Linked DNA regions of Homo sapiens: regions 1 and 3 are each linked to region 2. Evidence: fine-mapped expression QTL. A gene starts in region 2. Each other region holds a variant in brackets. All regions are shown on one strand. Distances are from middle to middle.

Evidence for each region. PIP is the estimated chance that this variant, and not a neighbour inherited with it, causes the effect.
Region 1: its variant is fine-mapped to the expression of YIPF1 in whole blood (INTERVAL, PIP above 0.99).
Region 3: its variant is fine-mapped to the expression of YIPF1 in lymphoblastoid cells (GTEx, PIP 0.97).

The regions. Positions count from the first base shown.
Region 1 is chr1:53,854,809-53,862,808 of GRCh38, reverse strand. It overlaps YIPF1 (Yip1 domain family member 1), which reads left to right. Exons shown (of 11, transcript NM_018982.5): 10 at 2,656-2,753. The coding sequence ends at 2,745. Among named protein-coding and RNA genes, the nearest start is that of NDC1, 21 kb to the right of the region's middle. The variant TG/G (reference allele first, on the strand shown) is at 4,828.
Region 2 is chr1:53,882,702-53,892,998 of GRCh38, reverse strand. YIPF1 (Yip1 domain family member 1) reads left to right here and starts at 3,202. Exons shown (of 11, transcript NM_018982.5): 1 at 3,202-3,286; 2 at 3,536-3,755; 3 at 4,013-4,092; 4 at 9,723-9,886. The coding sequence starts at 4,062. RefSeq lists an enhancer at 2,969-3,263 and a silencer at 4,149-4,443.
Region 3 is chr1:53,638,059-53,648,442 of GRCh38, reverse strand. All of the region lies in intron 2 of GLIS1 (GLIS family zinc finger 1), which reads left to right. Among named protein-coding and RNA genes, the nearest start is that of GLIS1, 96 kb to the left of the region's middle. The variant T/A (reference allele first, on the strand shown) is at 5,640.

The DNA of each region.
Region 1 (8,000 bases), 29 kb after region 2:
TTACGTTGCAAGGATTGAATGATATATGCAGCATGGAAAATATGACGAGTCATGTAAATGGAAGACATTATTATTAGGGCAGAGAGAGGAACTGGCAGGGGAGTTATTTGAGCTGAGGGGCACCGGCTGAACCAGACAGCTTGGCTTCCTCACTCTCCCCTGGGGAACACGGATTGGTGTTTTTGCCTTAGTGCAGTGAAGCATATAACAGCCCCACACTTGCCAGGGACCCCTCGGTGATTGCACATGTAAATGATGTCTAAGTTATACAAGAACACACTGGCAGGGATGACTAAGGAAGCACCTAGAGGCTGCACCCTTGGTGTATGTTTGGAGATGTACAAGCCTAAGTTTGAGGTGGTTACTGCTGGCTTTTACAGGGAGCTGTGCCCTACCCCTACTCACAGAGAACCTGCTGATTCAGCTTTGAGGTCTCCACGGTGCCTAGATCCGGACCGGACATAGACTAGGTGCCAAATTGCAGGAAGTGTTGGAGAATTAGAAGAGCACAGACTATGGAGATGGACTCGACTGGATTGAAATCCTAGCTCAGACACATAGTTGTCTAGCCTTGGGAAAATCTCCATTTCTTTGAGCCTCAGCTTTCTCATCTTTAAAAGGGATAAAATGGCCTGTTACAGCACTTTTGAGCAGATTAATGATCAAGTATATGTCTGGTGCACAGTAGGCATTCCCCAAATGATGGCTGTGATTGTTATTAAGCATTTTTGGAATTAATGAATCATAGAATTCAAGATTGTTCAAGGAATGGCCCTAAGAGATCATCTTTTCTTTTTGAGTCAGTTTCCCTCTGTCACCCAGGCTGCAGTGCAGCAGTGTGATCTAGGCTCACTGCAACCTCTGCCTCCTGGGCTGAAGCAATTCTTGTCCCTCAGCCTCCTGAGTAGCTGGGATGACAGGCATGTGCCACCACGCCTGGCTAATTTTTGTATTTTTAGTAGAGGTGGGGTTTCACCATGTTTGCCGGGCTGGTCTTGAACTCCTGGCCTCAAATGATCCACCTGCCTTGGCCTCCCAAAGTGCTGAGATTACAGGTGTGAGCCACCACACCCAGCTGAGATCTTATTTACTTTTCTTCCCTCCCTCCCTCCCTCCCTCTCTCTCTCCCTTCCTTCCTTCCTTCCCCCCTCCCTTCCTTCCTTCCTTCCCTGCCTGCCTTCTCTCTCTCCTTCTCACTCTCTTTCCTTCTCTCTCCACCACACCCAATCTCTCTCTCTCTCTTGAGTCACCACACCAGCCCCAAGATCATCTTTTCTAATCCTTTAATTTTATAGATCAGAAAGTTGAGGCCAAAGCAGGTGGAGCGACTTGTCCAAAGTCACAGTGTGAGCTAATAGCAGAGCCAGGTGTAGAAGCTGGGCCTCTTTGCTCATTCTGTCTTACAAGGGCACCCTGCAGTAGCCTGGAAGAAAGGCTTTGTTCCTGCATCCTGGGGGCTTGTGGCACAGTGTACCTGAGGGAGAACTGGAGGAGCCCAGCACTAGCACTGTGGCCCCATCCCCCACTTAAGTTAGGGACTCTTCTTTCCTTGCCCCAGAAAACAGCTGCTGGAAGGGTTCCTAAGGAGGAAGCCTCTTAAAAGTAATAGAGTTGCTTTGGGAATGGGGCAAACTAGAGGGAGTCTGCAGAGAAAGACATCATCTGGAAACTTTTCAAAAAGAGTTAACATGGAATAGCAACAGGTAGGGGAGAGCTCCAACATGTTGTGTTGGTGCCCCCTTCTGGCTGATAGAGAGCAGAGCTGGTGAAAAATGGTTGTTGGCTTTCCAACAGTGTACCTTCCTAAGGGCACTGACCCCAAGGGGGTATCATGAACATTCAGTGAGCCTTGATGTAGTAACAGATTCACCTTTCCTTTGAACAACCAGTATTCAAGGGTAGTGAGATTGGTATTTTCCTGGGCTCAAGTTTGGCTTCGCTCAAGTTAGGCTTCTCTAGACCTTATGTCTTCCCTCCTTTACCTCCTTCTGACTTTTGACCGTTAAATTGTAGATGGTGAGTGGAAGCACTTAGCAAACCTTTCATTTCCCAGCTGAAGAATTTTTAGGGAAAGCATGCCTAGCACTCTCTTTTCAAGGTATTTGCAGAAAGCCAACTAACTAGTTTAGCAGCAAGCTAATGTAGTTCAGTTCATTAGGTATTGATTGGTTACATACTGTGCCAGGCCCTGTGCAGGGGTGCTGGTGACACAAAGATGAAGAAGTCTTTGCCCTGGAGGAAAGACTGTATAATGTTGTGATTAAGAGCTTGTGCTTTGGAGTCAGACCGACCTAGCTTTGAGTTCTGGCTTCACCACTCATTAGCCATGTTCACCTGATCAAATGACAGTCTCTCTGAGCCTTAGTTTCTTTATCTGTCTAATGAGGATAATCCTAACAACCTCATAGGGTTATTAAGAGTAAGTCATGTAATATAGTAAGTGCTCAGTACATGATAGCTAAATTTTTTAAAGTATGCACAATTTAGTGAGACAAACGTAAACAGAGATGGTTGTAGTTTAGTGTGATGGCAAATATGGTAGGAAGAACTTAGGGGCTGTGAGAGTCCAAAAGTACTGTTAGCATGGAGTCTAAAAAAACACTTACCCGGACCACTGTCTTTTTAACTCCCTCCTGGGTCTTTTTTTCCCCACAGGCATACTTTTTTGATGCACCAGAGATGGACCATCTCCCAACAACTACAGCTACTCCAAACCAAACAGTTGCTGCAGCCAAGTCCAGCTAATGAGGAAAGTAAGAGATTCTATTTTTATTTTGCTGTGTGGTGCCATAAAACATGGGCAGGTGTATCAATTCTGTTAGTGTTAGCTTTAAGCACAGAGGGCCAGACCCTTTCATCCTTCTGCACAGTTCAGCGTGGGTTTGTGCATGTGCATGTCTGTGTTTCTGTGTTCCTCTTATTGAAGTCCTCTGTTTTGAAATCCACATGATACTGGCTTTATAGAGTTGGATAACATGAGCTCTTAGGTTCTTCTGTAAGAGGAGCTCCTGCCTTTGGTCCCAGTAGAGGGGACTCTCTTCTCCCTGAACCCTTTCCTAGAACACAATATGGGTTTGTTCCATTTTATAACAATCCTGGTGGTTTTTTCTTTTTTCTTTTTCTTACTTTCTTTTTTTCTTTTTGAGACAGAGTTTCGCTCTTGTTGCCCAAGCTGGAGTGCAATGGCATGATCTCAGCTCAGTGCAGCCTCCATCTCCTGGGTTCAAGCGATTCTCCTGCCTCAGCCTCCTGAGTAGCTGGGATTACAGGTGGGTGCCACTACTGCCTGGCTAATTTTTGTATTTTTATTAGAGATGGGGTTTCACCATGCTGGCCAGGCTGGTCTTGAACTCCTGACCTCAGGTGATCCACCTGCCTCGGCCACCCAAAGTGCTGGGATTACAGGCGTGAGCCACCGTGCCCGGCCATTTATCTGGTCATATAATTTATCTGGTGATCCCATTACACTTTGTATTAAGTATCACTCTCATGGTGCTTGAAACACTAATGGCTGACTAATCATGTGTCCATCTGCCTATTCATTAATTTGTTCGGCTATTTATTCATTCATTTGTCCACTGTATACTACAATGTCTCCCCAGTTAGGCTCAGCTCGACAAGAACAAGGCATGGTGTTACTCTATATCTTCATTGCCTACCACATAACCTAGTATACATAGGGCACTCAGTAAATATTTGTGGCATGAATAAATGAAGCCACACTCTGCACATGATCTTGCTGCAGGACAAGAACCTTTACTTTGCTGTGTAATCACAGACTGTCCTTTCTGTCCAAGCTGCTCTCTCCCAGAGGCATGAGATGTGTGCAAAAACCAGGGGCTTAGAATTAAATAAAATTACAATTAAATCCCAGGTCAGCTATGGTGGCTCACACCTGTAATCCCAGCACTCTGGGAGGCCAAGGCAGGCAGATCACTTGAGCTCAAGAGTTTGAGACCAACCTGGGCAATGCGGCAAAACCCCGTTTCTACAAACAATACAAAAAATTAGCTTGGCATGGTGGCATGCTCCTGTAGTCCCAACTAGTTGGGAGGCTGGGGTTGGAGGATCACTTGAGCCTGGGAGATGGAGGTTAAAGTGAGCTGTGATTGTGCCACTGCATTCTAGCCTGGATGATAGAGAGAGAACCTGTCTCTAATAATAATAATGATAAATCCCAGCCCTACCATGTACTAGCAATGTGCCTTGGGTAAGGGGCTTACTCTCTTTGAGCTTCAGCTAACTTGTCTTTACAATAAGAATGACACAAACTATATAAGATTGTAGTGAAGGTTGGAGATTATTTTTATAAAAGCTCCTGGCACATAGTTAAGGTGCTCAGCAATAAAATCAAAGCTACTGCCACTCTCAGAGTGCGTCAGTAGTTTATGTTTGGTGGCTCCCACTGACTTTACCTTGATCATTTTTTCCTTTTTGTAAAACAAATGGGGATTTTCCCTCTTAGTTGAGGAATCCAGGTTGTAGGCCCTGTAGGTTGACTAGATATGACTGGTCAAATGCTTTCCAGTTCCTTAATGGTAAGACAGTCACCCTGGCCAGTAGAATGACTGGGAACTATTGTAAAATGTCATAGTCTACCACTTTCGCCTCTTCCTCTCTTCTCATGGGTATGCGATGTTAGAATCAAAGAAGATCAGAGCCCTTGGAGACATTAAATAGCATGGGCTTCCCTCCTCATTTTACAATAAGGAAGCTGAGACCGAGAGAGGACAGTGCCTTACCCAAGGCCACCCCAGAGTTCTGGGGCAAACTAACATGTGTCTATCACATTCCATTTGACAAAACACTTTTTTTTTTTTTTTTTTT[TG/G]AGGTGGAGTCTCACTCTGTCGCCCAGGCTGGAGTGCAGTGGCGCAATCTTGGCCCACTGCAACCTCTGCCTCCCGGGTTCAAGAGATTCTCCTGCCTCAGCCTCCCAAGTAGCTGAGATTACAGGTGCCCGTCACCACACCTGGCTAATGTTTTGTATTTTTAATAGAGATAGGGTTTCACTATGTTGGCCAGGCTGGTCTCGAACTCCTGACCTTGTGAGCCACCCACCTTGGCCTCCCACAGTGCTGGGATTATAGGTGTGAGCCATCGCGCCCGGCCTGACAAAACATTTCCTAGTTTATTCTCTCATTGGCCACTCTTACTGGCCCTCTTGACCACATTGTATGTATAGATGAGAAGGCTGGGCTGAGTAAATCTGGGCTGACTAAGATCACCTACCTCTTAGAGGCAGAGCTGGGACTCATATCTAAGTCTTGGGAAGCCAATTTTTGAGGTTTTTCACTTTCCCATTTTTTAGACAAATGTTCTTTTTACCACTAAAACGTGCAGGTTCTCACTGCTAGCCTTTGGCTGTTTGATGGAGCCTTCCTCTGCGGGTCTAGAGGTGTTTAGTAGCAGTCTCCACACTCCTTTGATTGCATGTCTTATCAGCTGAGAGTTTGCGTGCTGTATTAATTATCTATTGCTGCCCAGTGGTATTACCACAATACACATTCTCACAGTTTCTGTGGGGCAGGACTGTGGGGATAGCTTAGCTTGCTCCTCTACTTCAGATTCTCTCTCAAGGCTGCAGTCAAAACATTGGCCAGGGCTGGTGTCTCACCTGAAGTCTAGACTGGGAAAAGATCTGCCTCCCAACTCACAAGGTTGTTGGCAGGATTCAATTCCTGTGGCTTCGTAGAATGAGGGCCTTCTTGCTGACGGTCATTTGGAGACCACCCTCAGTTGCTTGCCACGTGGGCCTCTCTGTATGATCACTCACTTCATCAAAGCCATAAAGGGAGAGAGAGGCAATCGAGTCTGATAGTGAGATGGAAGTTGCTGTCCTATATAATGTAAACATAGGAGAGATGGTCATCACCTTTACCATCTTCTATTGACTAGAAGCAAGTCACAGGTCTTGCCTACCTTCTAGGGGAGGCAATTACACAAGGGCATGAATGCCTGGAGACAGGCAGGGATCACTGGAGGCCATTTTAGATTCTCAGTCACAAGCACAAACTTGTGATACGTATATATTTGAAGTATTTGCATATACTGTTGTCAATCCATATAGGAACTATTAAAGCTTTAAATGCCATAGCCAAGTTGTCAGTTTAGCATTATGGGGCCAAGAAGGGAGGGACTCAGTTGGAGTTGGCCTGGAGGGAAGCTTCAGAGAGGGGCTCTTGTTTGAACTGGGTCATAAAGGTTGAGCACAGTCAGTTAGCTGTTCTGGAAAAAGTAGTCTGCTTCCCATGGCTTTTGGGAAGATGAAGACCTAGGCTGTACAGGGGAACCATGATAAGACGATGTGGACTCACATCACTGAGAACGAGACAATTCGAGCCCAGCTGGAGAGGGACAGAGGTAGAGAACACAATGGCAACAGTTTCCTGGGTCTCTCTTTTGGCCCAAAGTACCTGACATCGCCATGTTGAGGGTCTCTCTCAACCTGCCCCTGAGCTAGGACTTAAGTTATTTCATTTCATTTTGGTTGTAAAGGCCTTCAGAGAGTCAGAGCAGCATCTGAGAAGAGCCTGCCCCTCAGGGCCCTTGAAGACTTAGCAGACTGGTGTACACAGATTTGACGCCTCTGCGCTTTGCTCAGATCTATGAACTTGGCTGTTAGAGCCTCCATTTGGGTGTCAAGTCTCCAAATGAGGTAGTGATGAACAGCTTCTTTGCAGCCTCCCTGGCAGAAGCATCAATTGCTTTGCTGATAGAGAGGCTGTCCAGAGCCCTGAATGCTGCTGATTTACGAGCTGGCTGTGCCTTCTACTGTCATCTCTGGACTCCCAGCTTTCACTGAAAAATAAAGGCTTCTAATCTCACCAGTAACCTACCTTCCCCATGTAAATCTGTGTATTGGAAAACTTAGCCTAGAGCGCATTCCCAGGAGAGCATTGGAAGGCTTAGCTTAGAACACATTCCAGGGAGAACCCCTTCTCTCCCTGGAACCTCAGGATCATAGGGGAGCTTCCAGTTACAGTCATGCATTGCTTAATGATGGGATGCATTCTGAGACATGCGTCATTAGGCAGTTTCATCATTGTGCCAATATCATAGAATATACTTAAACAAACCTAGATGGTATAGCTTACAACACACTTATGTGGGATAGCCTATTGCTCCTAGGCTACAAACCTGTGTGGCATGTTGCTATACTGAATACAGCAGGCAGATGTAACCCAATCGTAAATATTTGTGTACCTAAACATAGAAAAGGTACAGTAAAAATATGGTGTGATCTCATGGGACCACCATTGTATACGTGGTCTGTTGTCAACTGAAACATCATTATGCAGTGTGGGACTGTACTTGTAATCAGCATGCTACCCCTATGTAAGTTATTGAAATAATATAAAGAATATCTGGCTTCCATCCTTCCTTCTTCATTAACTTTTCACATGAGGGCAGTGCTATGTCTTCTCTGAGCCAAGACCCTGGTAGAGCCTGGAAACTGTACCTGGGAAGCCCTGCTTTGGCTTGAGGGCTTGAGACCGCATCCAGATTGGGGTGAGCTTTCCAGGGGCAGTGACAGGTGGGGCTGTCCGGAGGAGGGCCATCAGCAGATAATCATATCGCAGTGTGATCAGGGCTTTAATTAATGATGCAGAGAGGGCTTCTGGAGAGTCCTTTGTCATTAAATCCTCCTGATTGGATACACAGGGTTTGTATGCAGTTATCCTGTCACTCGCTCACATTGTCAAGAGTGTTCATTTCACAAGCCTTGTCTACTTGGCAATTTCCTGTTTATTTTTCAGGACTCACTTGAGATACCCTCTCCTTGCTGAAGTTTTTCTTGACTTCTCCAGGTAGTATTACTTATTTTCTTTTCTGTGCTCTTCTACAGCTCTCGTATGTTCTTCTATTATGGCAGTTTGCTTATTCACTGTAACTTCATAGACTGAGAGTTCCTTGAGGGCAGAGCTTTATTTACCAATATAGCTCCCTAGCACCCAGCAGACACTTGGAGAAAGCTTCATTTGAACAAGTTGTTAGGCCAA
Region 2 (10,297 bases):
TGGAGAAACTGAAAGAAGAATCATAGAGCTCAGAGTTGGGAAGTGTTTTAAAATACACCCAAGACCTTTTTTTTTTTAAATAATTGAGACGGGGTTTCCTTCCTCTGTCACCAGGCTGGAGGGCAGTGGTGTGATCATAGCTCACTGCAGCCTCAAACTCCTGGCTCAAGCCATCCTCTCACCTCAGCCAGAGTAGTTAGGACTACAGGAGTGCCACCCAAACCCGGCAAATTTTGTGACTGTTATAGCTTCTCCTTATGTTGCCCAGGCTGGTCTTGAACTCTTGACCTCAAACAATCCTCCTTCCTTGATCTCTCAAAATGCTGGGATTATGGGAATGAGCCACCATGCCCAGCCCCCAACTTCTTAAAGTAATCAGGGCTGATTTTCCCCACCATGTGTCACTCTTTATTTATTTATTTTTGAGACAGAGCCTCGCTCTGTTGTCCAGGCTGGAGTGTAGTGGCACAATCTCGGCTCACTGCAACCTCCGCCTCCCAGGTTCAAGCAATTCTCCTGCCTCAGCCTCCCAAGTAGCTGGGATTACAGGCGTGTGCCACCATGCCCAGCTAATTTTTGTGTTTTCAGTAGAGATGGGTTTCGCCATGTTGGCCAGGTTGGTCTCGAATTCCTGACCTCAGGTGATCCGCCCACCTTGGCCTCCGAAAGTGCTGGGATTACAGGCGTGAGACACCGCGCCCAGCCGGCACTCTTTTCTTTACCTGCTGGTGCAGTGGTATGAGAAGCCAAAAATGCCTAAGTGGTAGTTACAGCTTCCAATTCAGTGGAACTGTAACTGGAATGGAAGTGTTCTCTCTCCGCCTTCCCTGCTTCCCTGGGACCAGGATCTCCAACCAAGCAGAACTTAAACTTGTGACGCAGGAGGCACACATTCTATGTGTGTAGGTTTCACTGAAAGTGATAGTAAGAAGTGCTACCCCTTGGTTTGCAAATCTATAGGTATTTAGAACAAAGTACCATTATAAATAATTGATAAACCATTGGTTTAGTACATGTACTACATGCCGGAGGACAATGCCCCAGTCTCCTGAGTATTTTCCCCAACCTGGAGCCCTAACTGTGCCTTTAACAAGCCATTCCACCATCCTATTAGGCCACCTACTATTGGATGACTGAGTCACATGGTAAGACCAGTGGGTAAGACCCATGGTTATGTGTCACTGTTGCATGTTCTTTACAATTAAATTGGTCCCTTAGTCCAAAGCAATGTTGTGCAGGTAATCATTGCAGGATCCGTAAGCAAGAGGACTTTGCTTTCCTTTAACAAGGGGGAAAGGACTACTTCTGCCACAGCCACCTTTCCCTTGAAAGATTCAAGGGAAACTGGAAACGAGGGATGGTCAAGTCTCAGGCTTTCCTACCCAAATATCCTCATCCCAGTTCTCAGGTTCCCATTCATTTTCTGACAATGCCCCAGCTTTGATGGAGGAGACCTACAGAGGCTGTGCATTCAGTCTTCGTTGAAACTTTGCCACCCTTACAATTAGATCTTGGGCCTGATTTTCAGTCCAGTCTTTCTCAAGGCTATAGAAGAATAAGAATCTTCAAAGCTGCCATAGAGGCTCTCTAGCTTTCACAAAGTGCCTCAAGTTGACAGTTGGCTGTTCTAAGTCTGTCATTTTATTTTCAAGGTTTCCAATGGAGTTAAGAACACCCAGTCCATTCCATAGTCCTTATAATTACCATTGTCCTCTTAATGTTCCTGTGCCACAGCCACTAGATAACTCAGCACCTTATCTTCTACCTGCACGTTATCCCAATCAACTGCAGACAGACACCTTAGTAATTGTGATGCCATTCTATTCTAAGTGTTATCACACCACCACCACCCCCCTCCTTCTCTCTCCCCTTAACACCAGCAATATATTTGTTGTTGCCATGTGACTGGTGCGCAGTTCAGTTAGAAAATGCCAACCTAAGGTTTTATTTTCTGGGGCCACTTTTGGTACCAACATGCCTTCATATTGCTTCCTCATATGAGTAGTTTATTGGCAAGTATGAATCCAAGCACCAGGAGTGAAGTACAGGGCTTGTATATCAGGGAAGGAAGGAGACCCATTGCGAAGATGCATTGTCAAATGCGTCACTTCCAAAGGCATTTGGTTGCTTAATCCTGCTAGGTAGTTTGAAAGCTATATGAAAGGGCGCCTGAGGGGGAAAAACAGGAAAAGCATATATTCATCAAGTGTTGACCCCATTGGTCAGAGATTTGCCTCATGAGACATTAACAACTCTCTACCCCTACACTTCTGGGATGCACCTGTCTGGGTGCTGATTGGCTCCAGCAAGGTCCCATGGCCCCATCGCATGAAGAAACAAGCCTCGAAGCAGAAAGTGAGAAGCCTGAGGCATAGACTGGAGGCAAGCTCACTCAGGTTATATCTGCTGACGCTGGAATAAGATGAGTGGCGGTGAAATAAGCAGCAGGTGAGGCCAAGATGATCTGAAATGGGACATAAGAGGTGGCTGATATACTAGCACAGCTGAATTCATGAACTGAGATTCATTCCTGGTACATACTCAACCAAAAGTGCCCTGCACATGCTCTAAGCCTCAGCTTTCTCTTTGTAAAATGAGGATAATCACCCCAAGATAGCAGGATTGTTCTGAGAATTAGAGATCCTGCATGTACAAAGCCTGATCATGATCATCTTGGGGAAAAAAATACACTATATATGGCTATTATTAGATGTAAAGTCTTTCCAAGCGCTCACTTACTGGGGGTGCTCATACGAACAGACATCGCGCTTTCGATCACTCATTCAGAATGTAATTGACTCATCATGTACTTTCTCACCAGTGAAATTTTTGTGGCCAAAAGAAACTGAGGGACTGGTGACGCGGGTGACTTAATTTTTTCTTTCACAATCGTCTTTCATCACCCGATTTTATATTTCCTTAGGAAAAGAGGTATAAACACACAGTAAGAAAACCCTAAACTCGAGAATTTTCTACGTTCCCTGGAGCAAGGCCAGCCCAAGTAGTCACACTCAGCGACCCCACCACTCCGCCCTCGCCTGTCTCTTTAAGAACTCGAGGCTCAGCCTCGGGAGAAGGGCGGGCGGGAGCGGGCTCTGCGCGCCGCAGCACGCAGGTTTCTCTGGGAGCTGCTGTCTCTTTAAGGAGGCGGGGCTCTTCCCGGAGGAGGCGGAGAGGTTCCGCCCCCCGGATCTCCGGCTTCCGGCAACTGGGCTGGACCGAAACCGGCGCGGAGCAACTGAGGCCCGAGCCTTCTCGGGACCCGGGGGACGCCTAACCCCGCGAGGTGAGGCTGCCGAGTTTGCGGGACCTGTACGAGGCTAAGGGGGTTCAGGATCTCCTGCCCGCCCGGGCCGCCGCGGCCCAGCTCCTCTCCCTGAAACACTGCCTCTGCTTCGCGGTGTCCCGGGCTGCAGGGTCGCCGACACCCCATTGCCTACTAATTGCCTGACTCCGCTCTAGGCTCCTTACACGCACTCCCATTTAATGACCCCCGCACTGTGTGACTAGGTATCGTTATGCACCCATTTTACAGATGAGGAAACTGAGGCCGCGAGGAGCGCGCATACAGCAGAGAAGCAGCAGAATCGGGAATCAAACCCAGCTCTGTCTGACCCCAGAGCCTGTGCCTTTAACCACTGGCTAGGCTGAACTGCCTTTGTTCTTCACTGTCCCCATCACCTCTTTCAAACCTCAGCCTCTCCTTCCTCATCGTTACATCTCTAGGCTGCACCTGCTCTCTAAACATTCACACAGTGAGTTGAGATTCATTCCTGGTACATACACAACCAAATAAGGTTGAATTGGAACCTTTGGATCCCCGGGGTTAGTTTCTTTGTTACAGTTTTAATATTTAATAATACCTGATGCTTAGTGGTTATCTTTATATAAACCTATTAAACCCCACTGAAAAGGGAGGCAAGGGAAAGTGATACCATTTCTAATACATAAGAGTTGTTTGCAGATACTTTATACTGTCATCCTATTATGTTTACCTATTTTTTTCTTTTAGAACCCTGCAAATTTTCTTCCTCATAATTGGGAGAAGACTCACTGGCCGAATGGCAGCAGTAGATGACTTGCAATTTGAAGGTATACCAGTTGGGTGCCCACCTTTATATTTATGATCACTGTTGCTACAGTCACAGCAAGTATTTTCATTCCTATACTGCCTCACACATTGAAGGATATTATTTCAAACATCTTGGTGGCTGTTGGCCACATCCAGGTGTTTCCTGTTTGTCCACACCAGCTGTTTTTGTTTTTGTTTTTTTTGCCAGATAACCCTTCAGATTGGTAACGAGTATCATAAATTTAGTACAGTGATTACAGAAAATGCTTACACAGTTCCTGCTTTAGTTCAGAAAACATTTATTGAGCACTTACTTTGTGCTTAGAACCGTACAAGATACTGGAGACAAAAAGATGAAGAAGTTTATCCACTGGTGGAGTAGATAAAAATGTAAAAAGATCATTAGGATGAAATGTGATCAGATCATTCCCTCATTGAATCAGTAAATATCTCCTGGTTGTGACCAGGAACCGGGCAATTGTTCTAGTTATCAGGGATAGAAGAGTGAACAAAATAGTTTCCTTGTGAAGCTCTCAGTCTAGTGAGGGGGACATGTATTTATTAAATGATCATTTAAATATATACCTACAAACTATGAAAGTGCTGGAGGAAAAGTTCAAGGAGATATTAGGACTCATAACCCAGAGCCTGACTTAGGCTAGGGATTGATGAACACTTGTTTGTTTGTTTGTTTGTTTCTTTTGATGGAGTCTCACTCTGTTGCCCAGGCTGGAGTGCCTTGGCTCGATCTTGGCTTGCTGCAACCTCTGCCTCCCGGGTTCAGACGATTCTCCTGCCTCAGCCTTCTGAGTAGCTGGAACTACAGGTGCCCGTCACCACACCCGACTAATTTTTGTATTTTTAGTAGAGACGGGGCTTCACCATATTGGCCAGGCTGGTCTCGAACTTCTGACCTTGTGATCCACCCATCTTGGCCTTCCAAAGTGCTGGGATTACAGGCATGAACCACCAGGCCTGGCCCACTTACTTGTTTTATTAACACCTTACCTAACATTTACTATATGTCAGGCACTGTTCTAAATCCTGTACAGATAATCCTTATGTCAACTTTATGAAATAGTTACTTTATTCCCCTGTTTTATTAATGAGGAGACTGAGGCACAGAAAAATAATTTGCCTAATGGTCACGCAGTTAGTAAGGGATAAAATCAGGATTTGAACCCATCCAGTCTGGTATCACAGCTTATGCTGTCTCTGTTATCTAAGGAAGAGATACACTGTTTAAAGATAAATCTATTTCATTTGCAAGTACTAGAAATCCACCTCAATTTGCAAATACTGTCAACCTCGTCTTCAAAATTCATCTAGCATCTGACCACCTCCACCACTACTCTCACCATGCTCAAGGTCACTGTCACCTTTTTTCTGAATTATAGCCTTTACCTTCCTTCTGGTCTTTCTGCTTCCTCCCTTATCCCTCTACAGTCTGTACTTTGCAGCCAGAGTAGTCCTTCTAAAACTCAAGCAGATCATGTCATTCTTTCAGAACCTTCCAGTAGCTCCCATCTCACTAGAAGAAAAAGCCAGGCTGGGCGCAGTGGCTCACACCTGTAATCCCAGCACTTTGGGAGGCCGAGGAGGGCAGATCACCTGAGGTCAGGAGTTCGAGACCAGTCTGGCCAACATGGTGAAACCCTGTCTCCACTAAAAATACAAAAATTAGCTGGGCATGGTGGTGCACGCCTGTAATCCCAGCTACTCTGGAGGCTGAGGCAGGAGAATTGCTCAAACCCAGAGGTTGCAGTGAACCGAGATCGCACCACTGTGCTCCAGCCTGGGCGACAGAGCGAGACTCCATCTCAAACATAAACAAACAAACACAAAAACGAAAAAGCCAGAGCCCTTACTGTGGCTTAGGAGGCCCCTATATGATGCAGCCTCCAACCCTCTGATTTCATCTGCTGCTCTCGTCCTTTCTGTCTCTGCCCAAGCTGCATGGGCTGTCACGGTTCTTCCTATGCACCAAGTACATTCACAGCTTGGGATGTTTGTGCCATCTTTCTGTGTGGGACATTCTCCCTTCAGATAGCCTTATGGCTTGCTTCTTTGCTCTGTTCAAATCTCTCCTCATTAGAGAGACCCTCCTCAGCCATCCTATCTAGGAGTGCAGTGCAAGAAAGTTTAAAGACAGTGGCCCTCGCAAAAGCCCCTGTGGAGTGAGGAAGTTTAATTTTTTTCCTAAAGGATTGGGAGAACACTTGTGTTCCAGATCACGGATGGTGGGGAAAGCTGACACAAGGTGAGGCTTAGGAGGAGGCAGGTGACAAATCACCCAGGGCTTTATCAACTGTGTTAAGGACTTGGGTCTTTAGAAAAGCACACAGGATGCTGGGGGTGGGGTGGCGGGGGGTGGGTCATGAAAGGCTTCTCCGGGGAGGAACGGTAGTATTGGATGAAAAAGTAGAGGTCAGAAGCCTTCAGGTGAAAGGCATTGTTTCAGGAAAGGAGCAGAGGCTGAAACTAGCTTAGGATATGCCAGGATGTAAAAGCAGAGAATGTTGGTGGCAGAAATAAGACACATACCAGTTTTATGCTCAAGGAGCTGAGATGGACAAGAATAACCAGCACAGAGCAGACTGTGTGAAGAGTCGTCATGTTAGGGGTACACGCAGCCCACACTCCAGTCAAACTATGCCGTCACTGTCCCTCCATCACGGGCACACTTTCCATCTTCTGGGTCTTGCTCATCCCCTTCCCTTTGCATGAGATGCCATCCCCAGCACCTCTGGCCATCCTTCTCATATGGTATCTTCTCCAAGAAACCTTTCCTGATCCCAATAACTAGAGGAGTTATCGCCCTCCTTGGGGCCTTTTTGACCTTTGTGCTTCTAAAGTGGTACTGTCTGTTCCTCCTTCTGGCATTCCTTCCCCCTGGTAAACTACTGCTTTTTAAAAATTTTTTAATTTTCATGGGTATGTAGTAGGTATATATACTTACAGGGTACACTCATATATTTTGATACAGGCATGTAATGTGTAGTAATTGCATCAGGGTAAACAGGGTGTCCATCACTTCAAGCATTTATCCTTTGTATTACAAACAATCCAATTATACTCTTTTTCTCTCTTTTTTTTTTTTTTTTTTTGAGACCGAGTCTCGCTCTGTCACCCAGGCTGGAGTGCAGTGACATGATCTCAGATCATTGCATCCTTCACCTCCCATTTCAAGCGATTCTTGTGCCTCACCCTCCTGAGTAGCTGGGATTACACGTGTCCACCAACATGCCTAGCTAATTTTTATGTTTTTAGTAGAGATGGGTTTTTACCATGTTGGCCAGCCTGGTCTCGAACTCCTGACCTCAAGTGATCTGCTCGCCTCAGCCTCCCAAAGTGCTGGGATTACAGGCGTGAGCCACTGCATCCAGCCCAGTTATACTTTACTTTTCTTTCTTTTTTTGTGAGACAGAGTCTCACTCTGTTGCCAGGCTGGAGTGCAGTGGTGCGATCTCGGCTCACTGCAACCTCTGCCTCCTGGGTTCAAGCGATTCTCCTGCCTCAGCGTCCCAAGTAGCTGGGACCACCAGTTTGTGTGTGCCACCACGCCCAGCTTCAGTTATACTTTTCTAGTTATTTTAACTACTGCTTTTTAACTGTGAGAGTTAAGTATATCTTCCTTGGTCTAATTCCCTCCAGCAAAGTTGTGACTATCTTTTTAAATGTCATTGCCCTGTACAATCAATAAGAGGTACCTGTAATGATAGTTATTATTTCATCATCCTCAAAATCTCTTTGTGGGGTAGGTATTATCTATGTTTTATAATTGAAGAAACAGAGACTCAGAGCCATGGAGTAATTTGCTCAAGGTCATGGAGCTACTGAGTATTAAGAGTCTTACCTTGAACAAAGGACCATCTCACTCCAGAACCTCATGTTGCTTAAACTACCCAAACATTGCCAATTGAGGCTTCAGTAATTGTTGCATATTAGCTACCTGATTAATTTCAGTCACTTTAGTGTTCTCCATAAAACTGCTCATATAGTTGAGAGGCAATAAGAGTGAACTCAGCTGTCCTACTGCTAGGACTGGTGCCCTGCTTGTAGTGTTATAATGGTGCCCTGCTGGCACTCTTCCTTTGGCCTTCGAAGGTTCAGAGCTGCCCTGAATTTTATTCAAGAGCAGCTGAAATAAAGTATGTTAGGATATTCGGAGACAGGAAGTCTCAATCACTGCTGGTGGACACAAGTAGGTAAGGTTCTTTTGGAAAGCAGTTTGGTAACATGGTTCAGGATCCTTGAAAATGGTTTGCACCCTGTTGACCTAGTGATCACACTGATAGGTGTTCATCTTAAGGCTGCCCCCCAAAAAGCTTTTTCTACACAGACACTCCTTTTGTATTTGTAAGAAAACCTTCATTGATGGAATATTATGCAGTCACATAAGTGATCATTTTAAGAGACTGTTATATGAAAAATCATTTTTGTGTATAATCCCCAATTTTACATAATCTTGACAAAGCAGGATGCAAAATTAATTATAGTATCATGTTCTAGATCAGTACTTGGCACATTGTGGGCATGCAGTAAATATTTGTTGAATAAATGAATGATCATCAGTGGCATGAATCTCACTATGTGAAGAAAAGGAAATATACTAAAATGTTAATAGTGTTTGCCTTTATGTGGTAGAACTAAGAGTGTTTTTTTGTTTTTTGGGTTTTTTTTTTTTTTTTTGAGACAAAGTCTTACTCTCTTGCCCAGGCTGGAGTACAGTGGTATGATCACGGCTCACTGCAGCCTCTACCTCTGAGGCTCGAGCAGTCCTCTTGCCTTGGCCTCCCAAAGTGCTGGAATTATAGACATGAGCCACCATGCCTGGCCTAAGAGTGGTTTTTATCCTGTGATTTCTACTTTCTTTTTTCCTTTTTTTTTGAGACATAGTCTCACTCTGTCACACAGGCTGGAGTGCAGTGGTGTGATCTCGGCTCACTGCAACCTTTGCCTCCTGGGTTCAAGTGATTCTCCTGTCTCAGCCTCCAGCATAACTGGGATTACAAGGCATGTGCCACTACACCCGGCTAATTTTTGTATTTTTAGTAGAGACAGCATTTCACCATGTTGGCCAGGCTGGTCGAACTCCTGACCTCAGGTGATCCGCCTGCCTTGGCCTCCCAAAGTGCTGGGATTACAGGCGTGAGTCACTGTGCGCAGCTGATCCCACTTTCATTTTTGTTCCCATATTTTCTGTAGTGATTATGTAGACTTACTGGAAAAAATAACCTTCATTAAAATTTTTTGGACTTGAATCAAAGAAGTAAAGTTTAGGACTTAGATTATATTCCTTGTTCTCCCAAAATTATTTAAAATAAATGTTATTCTCCCCATGATACAGATGAAAACACTGAGGTTTAGAGGGGTTTAGTTACTTACTCAGGCTTGTGTATTTAGTAAGTGGCTAGCTGAGCCAGAACCAAAATCTAGGTCTGACTCCAAATTCTGTTGTCTTCATAGTCATTTTTCTATATCAGATTGATCTCCTGATGAGATTTTTTGTTTTTCAAAGCTTTTGCCCTTTGTATCAGGTAGGGTCTATAGCAAAGCTGAGGTTGTGACAGCTTGTCTTTAAATTCAAAGTATAGCATTTCTAGTGTGGGTAAGGTTTCTGAGGCCCGTGTGCTCTAATTGATTTCAGAATTTGGCAATGCAGCCACTTCTCTGACAGCAAACCCAGATGCCACCACAGTAAACATTGAGGATCCTGGTGAAACCCCAAAACATCAGCCAGGATCCCCAAGAGGCTCAGGAAGAGAAGAAGATGATGAGTTACTGGGAAATGATGACTCTGACAAAACTGAGGTTTGAACTTGTCTTTGAGATATTTTTTAAACAATTTTTAAAGCTTGTTTATGTGCTTATTCACTGTCTACTGTGTGCCAGGTACAGTGTCAGGCAATGACAGCTCAGAGGTAAATGACACATGGCCTCTTCCTTGGTGGGGGAAACAGGCAAACAGACCATTACTTTCCGTAAGTACACTTGTGGAGGGGAACACTGGGGTAGTGAGCAGAGATCCTAGCTTATGGAATGTGGGACTCCCATGCTCAATATTTTCTAATATTAGAGTAGGAAAGAACCTTCATGGCCCTCTGTTTTAGCCTCTCTCCTGAGATATTGATGCTGTCCTTGCTATGTAGGAAAGATAACACTTGGAGCCAGGCGTGGTGGCTCACGCATATAATCCCAGCATTTTGGGAGGCTGAGGCGGGC
Region 3 (10,384 bases), 240 kb after region 2:
ACAGCTTTCCAAAGTGGCTGCACCATTTTAGCACTCCCGCTGGCAGAGTAGCAGAGTTCCCATTGCTCCCCATCTAACATACGATGTTGCTTGTCTTTTAAATTTTAGCCATTCTGGTGGGTGTGTGTTGGTGTCTTAGTGTGGTTTGAATTTACATTTTTCTGGCGATTAATGATGTTGAGCATCATTTCATATATTTTTTGACCATTTGAATATTCTCTTTTGTAAAGTGCCTATTCAAGTCTTTTTTTTAATTTTTATTTTTTTTTGAGACAGGGTTTCACTTTGTTGCTCAGGCTGGAATGCAGTGGCGCAATCACGGCTCACTGCAGCCTCCACCTCCTAGGCTCAAGCGATCCTCCCATCTCAGCCTCTTGAGTAGCTGGGACCACAGGTGCACATACCACCATGCCTGGCTAATTTTTTGTTTTTTTGTAGCAATGGAGTTTCATCATGTTGACCAGATTGGTCTTGAACTCCTGGGCTCAAGTGATCCTCCTGCCTCATCCTCCCAAAATGCTGGGATTACAGGCATGTGCCACTGTGTCTGGGGAAGTTTTTTTTAATTGAGTTGTTTGCCTTTTTTCGTGTAGAAGATCTTCATGTATTCTAGATCCAAGCCCTTTGTTAGTTAGATGTGGCTTGCCCTTTTTCTCTCTTAATGATGTCTTTTGATGAGTAGAAACTCTCCATTTCAAAATAATCTAGTTTATTCATCTTTACTTTTATGGTTAGTGCTTCTGAGTCCTGTTTAAGAAATCTTTGTGAATTTATCTCAAATTGTGAAAATAGTCTCCTATACAATTTTCTTTTACAAGCTTATTTTTGAAGCTTGGCTGTTTTACATTTAGTATTTAGATGTATAGTCCATCTAAATACGAGGAGGCTCTCTGGATTTGGTTTTTATGTTTGGTGTGCAGAAGGTGTCAAGTTTCTTTTTTCCGACATTGTATAGAAATCCGATTGAGCCAGCAGCTTCTATTGACCACGTTGTCCTTCCCCCACTTTTCTGAAGGGCCACCTTTACCATAAATCAATTAAATAAATGGCTCTATTTCTGGATTCTCTGTTCTGTTCCATTAGCCTATTTGTTTATCTTTGTGCCAGTTTCACATTAATTACTGTAGCTTTATAATAAGTCTTGATATCTACCTTATTCTTCAGGATCACCCTGGCTATTCTTGGCTGTTTGAATTTTAATATAAATTTTAGAACCAGCTTGGTAATTTCCACAGACAAAAAGAACCTGCTGGGATTTTGATTTGGATTGCACTGAATCTCTAGATAAATTTGGGAAGAAAAATTTGCAACTTCCAGCTTCTAGATAAATTTGGAATTTCTAAATTCACATTTGGAATCTTCTGACCCATGAATATGGCTTATCTCTCAATTCATTTAGGTCTTCCTTAATTTATCTCAATTTTCTTTTCCTTCATCCCTCCCTTCCTTCCTTTCCTTCCTTTCCTTCCTTTCCTTCCTTTCCTTCCCTTCCCTTCCCTTTCCTTCCTTCTTTCCTTCCTTCCTTCCTTCCCTTCCTTCCTTTCCTTCCTTCCCTTCCCTTCTCCTTCCTTCCTTCCTTCTTTCCTTCCCCTCTCTTTCTCTCTCTCTCTCTTTCCTTTCTTCTTTCTTTTTTGAGACAGAGTCTTGCTCTGTTGCCCAGGCTGGAATGCAGTGGTGTGATCTCTACTCACTGCAACCTCTGCCTACCAGGTTCAAACAGTCCTCCTCCCTTAGCCTCCCAAGTAGCTGGGACCACAGATGTGCGCCACCACACCTGGCTAAGTTTTGTATTTTTAGTCAAGACGGGGTTTTACCATGTTGGCCAGGCTGGTCTCAAACTCCTGACCTCAACTGATCCACCCACCTTAGCCTCCCAAAGCGCTGGAATTACAGGTGTGAGCCACCATGTCCAGCCTGTCTAGCAATTTTCTTTGTTGAGGTCTTGTATATCTTGTGTTAGATTTATCCGTATGTATTTGATGTTATTCTATGTTACCATAAATGATATCTAAAAAATTCCCTTTACTGTTTATTGTAGATAAGTATATAATTGAGTTTTGAGTGTTCCTGTTATATCTACTGACCTTGTCAAATTAACTTTTTAATGGTCTAGTTTGTTTTTAGATTCTTTTTGATTTCTGATTATCACTTGTGAATAATAAGTTTTATTTATTCCTTTCAATTCTTATATATTTTATTTCTTTCATCCCTGCTTACCCACTAGAGGTAATCTTATGTTTGTCATTCTCTTGCTTTAAAATAATTTTTAATCAAATAAATAGTTTTTATCACGTGTCTATGTGTGCCTAAACAATATATTCCATTTTAGTGGATTTTGAACTTTATTCGGTATACTGAGATTTGCTTTTTAAATTCAGCATTATGTTGCTGGATGTTGCAGGTGTCTCTAGTTCATTCATTTTCACTTCTTTGTAATATTCATCATATGAATGAATATGGCCCCTGCCCCCCTTGTTCACTGCTGCATTCCTCAGGACCTAGTGCAGGGTCAGGCATGGCATGGCAGGTCAATAAGGCTTTGATTGAATAAGAACTGCAAGGAGTGAGGTAGACACCACGAAAGCCCAGCTCTACTTCCTGCAAGCAAGGAGTCAGGTAGACTCTTGAAAATCCAGCTCTGCTGCCCCCTAAATTCTATGAACTTGGGAAAGTTACTTAGCTTCTCTGAGCACCAGTGTTTCCTCTTGAGTACAATGGAGATGAAAACACTTATTACTTGTGGTTACCAGGAGATGGCTTACCATGAAACAACTTAGCACAGATGGCATAGCCCTTCTTCCCATGTTGGCCTGTACCCCAAGGGTTGTGGTTCATAGGGGGTCTTGCTGTTGGGCAGGCCATCCCCTCGGCCATCCCCTATCACCCTGGCCTGCCATCCTGCTTGCTGAGTATGGATAAGAGAGTAAGCGGGAGGAGTCATTCCCCATTCAGTAAGCATTTGCTAGGCCCCTGCTGGGTGTCACAACTGTTGTAGACTTCGGGGACTGATCAGTGACTACAATAGACCAACATCTTCTTCCAGAAGCCTGTCTTCTAGTGGGTAGAGACAGATGGAAACACAGGAAATATACAGTGTGTCATTTGGTAACAAGTGAAACAGAAACAAATGAGCAGGGAAGGGAGACAGGAAGTGTTGGAGAGGGCTATTTCGTGTTTGGAATAGCACGACCAGGAAAGGCCCCAATGTTCATGCAATGTGTGAATCAAGATCCGAAATATGGAAGGACCCATGCAGATGTCTGGGGGGGAGAAGCATTCTAGGCAGAGCGCACACATCAATTGCAAAGTCCCCGAGGCCAGACTGTGCTTGGCATGAGTGCGGAATAGCCAGGAGGCCGGTGTGGCTGGCGTGCGTTTGTTTAGTTATTTCACAGACATTTCCTATGCACATGCCAAGCCCTGTTCTTAGGCACTGAGGAGAGATAATAGTGATCAATTCAGATTAAGTGCTGCCCTCATGGACCTTAGATTTTTGTGGAGGAGATAAACCGTAAACCAACAAATAAGCGAGACAGTCTGCTTTCAGCACAGCAGCCTGCGTGATCCTTTTATACCAGTGGAATCTGTCGCTCCTCTGCAAATAATACTTGCTGTTGTGGAGTGAGCCCCTGTGGCACTCAGGATGCAATTCTGGATCCTCTCTGTGGCCTGTGGGATGATGCCGGACCCCGGGGCCCCCCAAATGCACCGTTTAATTCTTTCCTTCTAATTTCCTCCTCTCCAGCCCAGCACACTGCCTCCTCCGGGCCCTGGTCCCATCTGTTCCCTCTGCTGGGCATACCCTTCACCACTCTGTGGTGCCCACCTTCAGCACCCTGCCCTACCCCAGCACCCCCATCCCCTTACTCTACTCAGTTGTTTTTGAAGAACTCTTCCCATTCTAATAGGCCGTATGTTTGACCTATTGATCATGTTTGTTATTTATGAGTCACCTCCTCTTCTGTACGGAAGCTCCAGGAGGGCAGGGATTTTTGTCTGTTTTGTTCACTGTCTTCTCCCAAACATCTATGACAGCCAGGATTTAATAGGTTTAATGAATTTGTTTGTGAATAACAATAATATTTGTTTAATGAAGAAAAATTCATCAATATTATGTCAGGTTGTATGATAAATAGTGATTTATCATGGCAGAGTGAGAGGCTGGAGGTGGACAGGATGGGGTACAGTTTTAGCTGGGCCGTCAGAGGCTCTCTGGGGCAGAGCCAAGTGGAGGGAGGGTGACCCGGCAGCCTAGCTGCAGTGGGAGCTGGTGATTGGGATGGTGGTAGGACAGAGAGAAAGAGGCAAATCAGCTGACCCTAAATGGTGTCTTGTAGAGACTTCTTCCAGAATATGAGAGTTGACCCTAACATGGAGCCTTGCTCCCCTCCCCCACTTTGCCCCTTCCTTTCAAAACAACTTGGCCTGGAACATTCTTTATCAGGGAAAGAACTCCAGGCTTGGCATTAGGAGGCCAGGGCTGGGCTCCCAGCTCACTGGATTACAGAGAGAGTAAGCCCCTGGCTCCGAGCCTCATCTTCCTCTTCTATCGTGTGGGGATTACACTCTGTACCCCCTAGCTTACTGGGGGACGTTTGGACAACCAGTTTGGAAGGGCCTCATTTCCTCCTGTCAGCCCCCGATGGCTGAAGTGCTAGGAGACCCCGGGGGTGCTGCTCCACAGGCTTCTCAGTTAACCCCTGGTGCTCATCGTAGCCCTGGGGTAGGAGGAGGCCTCACCCTCCCGCCGTTCGCTCATGTTCGTGGTGTGGAAAGTGAGGCAGAGAGAGCTTCCATAACTTGCCCAAGTCACATAGCTAGTAAGCCACAGCTTGAAGCTATAGTTGCCGTGTTATGCTGTGACCTTGGTTACTAGCACTGAGTCTGCCTCCTTGCTCCCTCCCCATGGTCATTGTACAGGTGGGGAGACTGAGGCCCAGATGGACACATAGCTTGTGAAGGCCACACTGTCTGTGCATGATGGAGTCTGAACTAGAACCAGGTCTCTAGGCTCTCAGCCCGTGGCTCACTCCAGGTCAAGTTCAGGTGACTCCACCCGCAGGGTTACCTGGAGGACAAGAGCATCTGGGAACACTACTGCCCCCAACCAAAGTCATAATGGGCCTCTTCCTGCTGCTCTGAAGGTTTGTTCCCAGGGCTTGCTGGGGCAACGTTAAAACTTTACAGAGCTGCTGGAGAGAAGCGGCCCAAGTGTAAATCAGGTTTATGGCCTGGATAATAAAGTGTCTGCTCCAATGGATACTTGATTCCTTGTGCCTCTTGATTCCTTCCATATGAAGCCCTCCACTTTTGGGTCACAACAGACCTTGGTGGTTTCGTTTGTTCGGGAACTAGGAACTGGGTCTTGTTAGTCCGAGAAGACGGGACTCAGAGGACTCAGACCACAGTCTGCAGGCCTCAGACTGTCCCAGCCCTGTGGTGGTTTGACAGCGATAGAACACGTTTCCTCAGCTCACAATTCCTGAGTTGTTTTGAGCTCACAATTCCTGAATTGCCTACTTGGTGCCAGGCCTGCACTGGGCACTGGGGACAGAGAGCTTCCAGATAAGGGTGGGACACAGACATGTGAACTAAGTTACAGTGCAGGGAACTGGGGAGGCCGGGCAGCCTGGTGGAGA[T/A]CAGGGAGACTTCCCGGAGGAGGTGACGTTGAATCTGATACAAGACGGGTGAGTGGAGTTAAAACTGCAGTGGGAAGGGTGTTGCAGGCAGAGGGAATGGCAGACACAAAGACACAAGAAAGGAGAGAGCTTAGCTCATGTGAGGCTGGAAGGCAAGTCCTACAGCACAGAGGAAGAAGTGCTTTACTGTAGGAGATACCCAGAAGGCTTCCTGGAGGAGGTAGCACTTGACTTGGGTGTTACAGGATAGACAGGCGTTCATTAGCACCAACAGAACAAACCTTCTGTAAAGTCTTGAGAATACTGACTGGCATGGCGGTGTGGATACTATGAGCCATTCCAGCAGCGTATTGTGGCAGGGCCCCGAGGTGGAAGGCCTTATCGTTGCGTGGCAACCTGAAACTCTGACAGCACTGCAGAGTAGTGTGAAATAGGTGCAGGGAACCCAGCCTCTCCTGCCTGTAATGTCCAGAACAATCTCTCCAGTGCTCGCCTTCCATCAAAGCAAGACAGCTCCCCTGATCCCAGATTGCCAAGCTGCTGATGTTTATAATTACAGTGTCCCACCATCTGAATCTTTGTTCATCAGACTCCATTAGCCTGATTTATTTGATGGGCACCAGTCCTCGTAATGGGGAACAGAAACAGGGCAGTGTGTTGCCTTGGGATTCATCAGGGTAGGTGTGGCCTGGCCCCACAAGCTCTGGGCCTGCTGGACCACTGAGGTGTCCTGGCCTGGCCAGCTGGCCCCAGGAGCAGCCTCCAGGCCCCACACTTGGCAGTGCCTGGGAGTGGAGTGGGGTCAGGGAGCAGACACTCTTGTCAGGGAGAGCTTCGGGGTCAGCCCAGGATGGGAGGCACAGAGCAGCGGCCCTGGGATGGGACAGCCCTCAGCTTGAGACCTGGGGCTGGAGATTAAATGATGTGCAAGCTGTGGAGGTTCCCAGCACAGAGCACCCAGTGATCTTGAACTCCCTTGCTTTTGCAGCACAGATGGACAGATGGACCGTTCCTTCCCAAGAAGCTTGAGGAGAGGTGTCGGGTGTCAGGAAGGCGTGTTAAGAAACCACCCTCCACCACCAAGATGGCCCCTTTTTGGTGCGCCCTCGTCAGTACCACTCACCTACTTGTCCTTGTTTATTCAAGGCTCCATCATCCACAAAGTGCCCTTAGGCCCCCAATCTCTGTGTGACAACCCCACACCCACGGGCCAGAGTTTTTCACCCACATTTTTCAGGTGATGAGCCCAAGGGCCAGAGAGGGCAAGTGAGTTCTTCAAGGTCACACAGTCAGCAAGTGATATAGCCAGAACTTGCACCTGAGGCTCTTCTCAGAGTGCTCAGGTTCCTCTGGCCCCACCTGTTTTCCTCCTCCCCAGACTGCTGGAGCTCCTACGGCAGGCACTGGGATGTCACTGTAGGAAAGCTGTTCCTTCCCAGGGGAGCTTGCTGTCTGTTGGGAATGTCATCCACTGTCATTTAATCTCTAGGACAACCCTATGAGGCAGGTGTTGTTATCCCTATTTTACAGATGAGGAAACAGCCTCAGAAAGAGTAAGGACTTGCCCAAGGTCCAGCCCAGGTACTCAGCTGGAGGATGAGCACCTTTTGTATGCAAACCCTGGACTGGGCACTCTGATGGTTCCAAGAAGAGTCAACACCGCAGACCCTGCCCCGTGGTCCCCCAAGATATTCAGGGACTCTCTCTATGGAGGTATTCATTGCTGCCAGGCAATAGTATGGGCCCTTTTCTACATTTCTGCCCCAGGGTCAGGTTTAAACCATCCATCATCAGCTGGGCCTGTCTCCCTGTGCTTTTGAAGTCCCCGGTTCTGTTCCCTCCAGAGGCCTAAGAGTGTGCCTTCAGCTCTTCCTTTCCCCCACGTCTTCTTAATCTCGCAGTCCTGCTGTGCATCTCAGCCAAGCCCAGACTCCGGGAGCTGCCTCAGTACAAGCATGAGCGTGTGTGTGTGTGTGCACATGCATGAAAGGGGCATGGGGTAGGGGAGGGAGTGGCAGAGTGGCTTAATGTAGTATCCCAGACTACTGCCTGGGTTTTAAATCCTGGCTTTACCTCTTTGATGACTTTGGGCACGTTACTTACTTTCCCCTTCTGTATGATGGGCACAGTGACAGCGCTTGTCACAGGGCTCTGGGGAGGAGTGGAGGACAGTCCAAGTGAAGTGCTCAGAGAGGGGCCAGCACATAGCAGGTGCTCAGTGGATGGCTGCTGCTGTCAGACTCTAAACAGCCACCCTACAGGCAGGAGATCCAGGCTCCACAGGAGAGCGGGGTGCTGGGGGCCTGAGGATCCCAACTGTCCAGCCCCCAGCTGTCAGATGAAAAACTGAGACCCAGGGAGGGACAGGCCAGGATTTTCACCAACAACGGTGTAGAGTCACTTGCCTGCTTTTAAACCTGGCTCCCAGCCTTTTTATATTCCTCCCATTTGGTTACAACCAAAAGGAGTCAAACCACTAATTTGCTGTGGATGCAGCCCTGGGTATTTTTCTTTCTTACTGGGCATTCTTCACAAAGGGGCTTTGTGGAGCCTCCGGAAGGCAAGGTAGTGTTTGCCCTGCCTGACCCTGGCTGCCTGGGGAGCTAGCTGGCTCAGTGATGCCAGGCATGGTACCCCACCTCTGACTTTGGGTTGTCCCATCCTGCTGCACAGGGCACCTGCACTCCTCTGACTGCTTTGTGACCTAGGGCTAGTATGTCCCTTCTCTGAGCAATCATAATAATCATAATAGTGACAACTTAATGAATAAAATGTGCTTGGCACTATGGAAGCACCTCATATATATTTAAATCTCACCATGCTCGTGTTTGTTAAGTGTAGTATCCCTGTTTCTGTGGAAGTATAAACTGAGGCTCAGTGACGTATCAGACTTGGGATTTGAACCCAGGACTATTAGCAGCAAAGCCACAGCTTTTAAACAACATCCACATTTGCCTACTTTCCTCAGTGGCAAAGCAGAACCTCGGGGCAGCTGTGAGGAGTATAGTCCTGGGGGAGAAGGGTTTGCATACATTGAAGCCCACAGCAGTGCTCCTGGTCCTTGAGACTGGCTTCCCAAGCCTGGAGGTTTATAAATATTCACTGAGTAAACCTGAGTATGCTGTCGGCCCAGGATAGCGGGCTGGAAAAAAAAAGCCCCACCCTGTCTCCGAGGTAAGACAGGAAAGAAAATATTATCGTCACCCTCTGGTGGATCCAGCTCTAGGCCTCCGTCAAATTGTGAATCACCTGAGAGTCTGGTTTCGCTGCAACCACAGAAAAGGGCCAGGGTTCCAACCAAAACAGCCTGTGCGCATCTGCTTGGAATTTACTGATTGATTTATGGGGTGCCTCCTGCCAGCCCCGAGAGGGACAGGCGTTCTCAGAGTGGCGGCTCAGTCCAGCCTCCCAGACGGCTGCTGCCACCCTGCGGGCCAATGGGAGATGGGAAGGAGAGCAGCCTGCAGGGAGGGGACACCTCCGAACGAGGGTGGGACTGGTGGAGCCCACTGGCACTTTCTGGATATGCCATCGCCCTGCCAGCCCGCAGCTCCCTTAGTGTAATGCTGGAGAGTGTGGCCAGTGTCATGTGGGTACTCTGCATCGGCTGGTGTGGCTTCATCTCTAGAATGACTCTGTGGGTGTAGGTATTATTGACTCATTTTACAGATGAGGAAACTGAGGCTCAGTCAGAATAAGGACTGGCTCAAAGTCACACAGTTAACCAGTGGCAGATCCTAGTTTCAATCCTTTGATTCAGGGGCCGGTGCTGTCAACCACTCTGAGAAACTGGAAGACCTTGGCGTCATCTGGTCCAAATTGTTCCTTCTGCCCTCCACTCCCTGCCCCAGTTTGTGCATGAGGAAGTCCAGACCACAAGAGGGACTGTGATTGTCTGAAACCTTCAGGTCACCCAGGGCCAACCCAGAGCCTGGCAGTCCCCCTTCTGCTATGACTTGCCTCCTGGTCAGGGCCCGCCTCGTCATGTGCTCCCCCGGCCACTCCCTCCAGGGTTTACCCTCGTTTTCATGTCCACTGGCTGCCCCTGCCCCACTCCTTGTTCTGGGTGTGGGGGGTTCTAGGGTTGGAAGGGGCTTATTGACAGGGAGGTAGGCTGGCCAGGTCCTCACGGGATGTGCAGTTGGGACATGGACACTGGACTCTCTGCCCCCAGACGCCAGGGTCTTTGCCATTGCTCCATGGGGCCTCAGAGGCCCTGCTGGGGTCATGAGGCTTTGGGATTGGGTGGCAGTGGGGTTGGGGGGCAGTGGGGAACAAGGGAGGACAGACTGGGCTCAGGACTGGCTTGGTCACAGCTAGATTCTCACTCTCTGTAGTGGCTCCTGGTTAACCCTGTGTGGGTCTCTGCGTCATCTTTCAGCTGGGGCCTGAACTGGCCTGGGGGAGGCCTGCCCCTTGGGGCCAGTGTCTGTTTTGCTCAGCTTGGTTTCCTGCAGGCAACACCCGTGTGGTTGCTGTGATGGGAACGGACCACGTTGTCTTTGGGTTATGGTATCCAGCACCATGCGGGCCTGTGGTTATCATCTGTCACAATGCAGAGAAACAAGGAACCCTCCCTTTCCCCGAGGTGCCTTCTCTGCTTCCCCTCCCACATATATTGCATCTCTCAGGCCAGGACTTCCCTGACCCTTACACCGTGTGGCCTCTGTGCTTCTCCCCGTGGCAGTCCCCACCACATGTGTGGCTCCAGACCACCAGAGTGATCCCTCTAAACCCAGATGGGA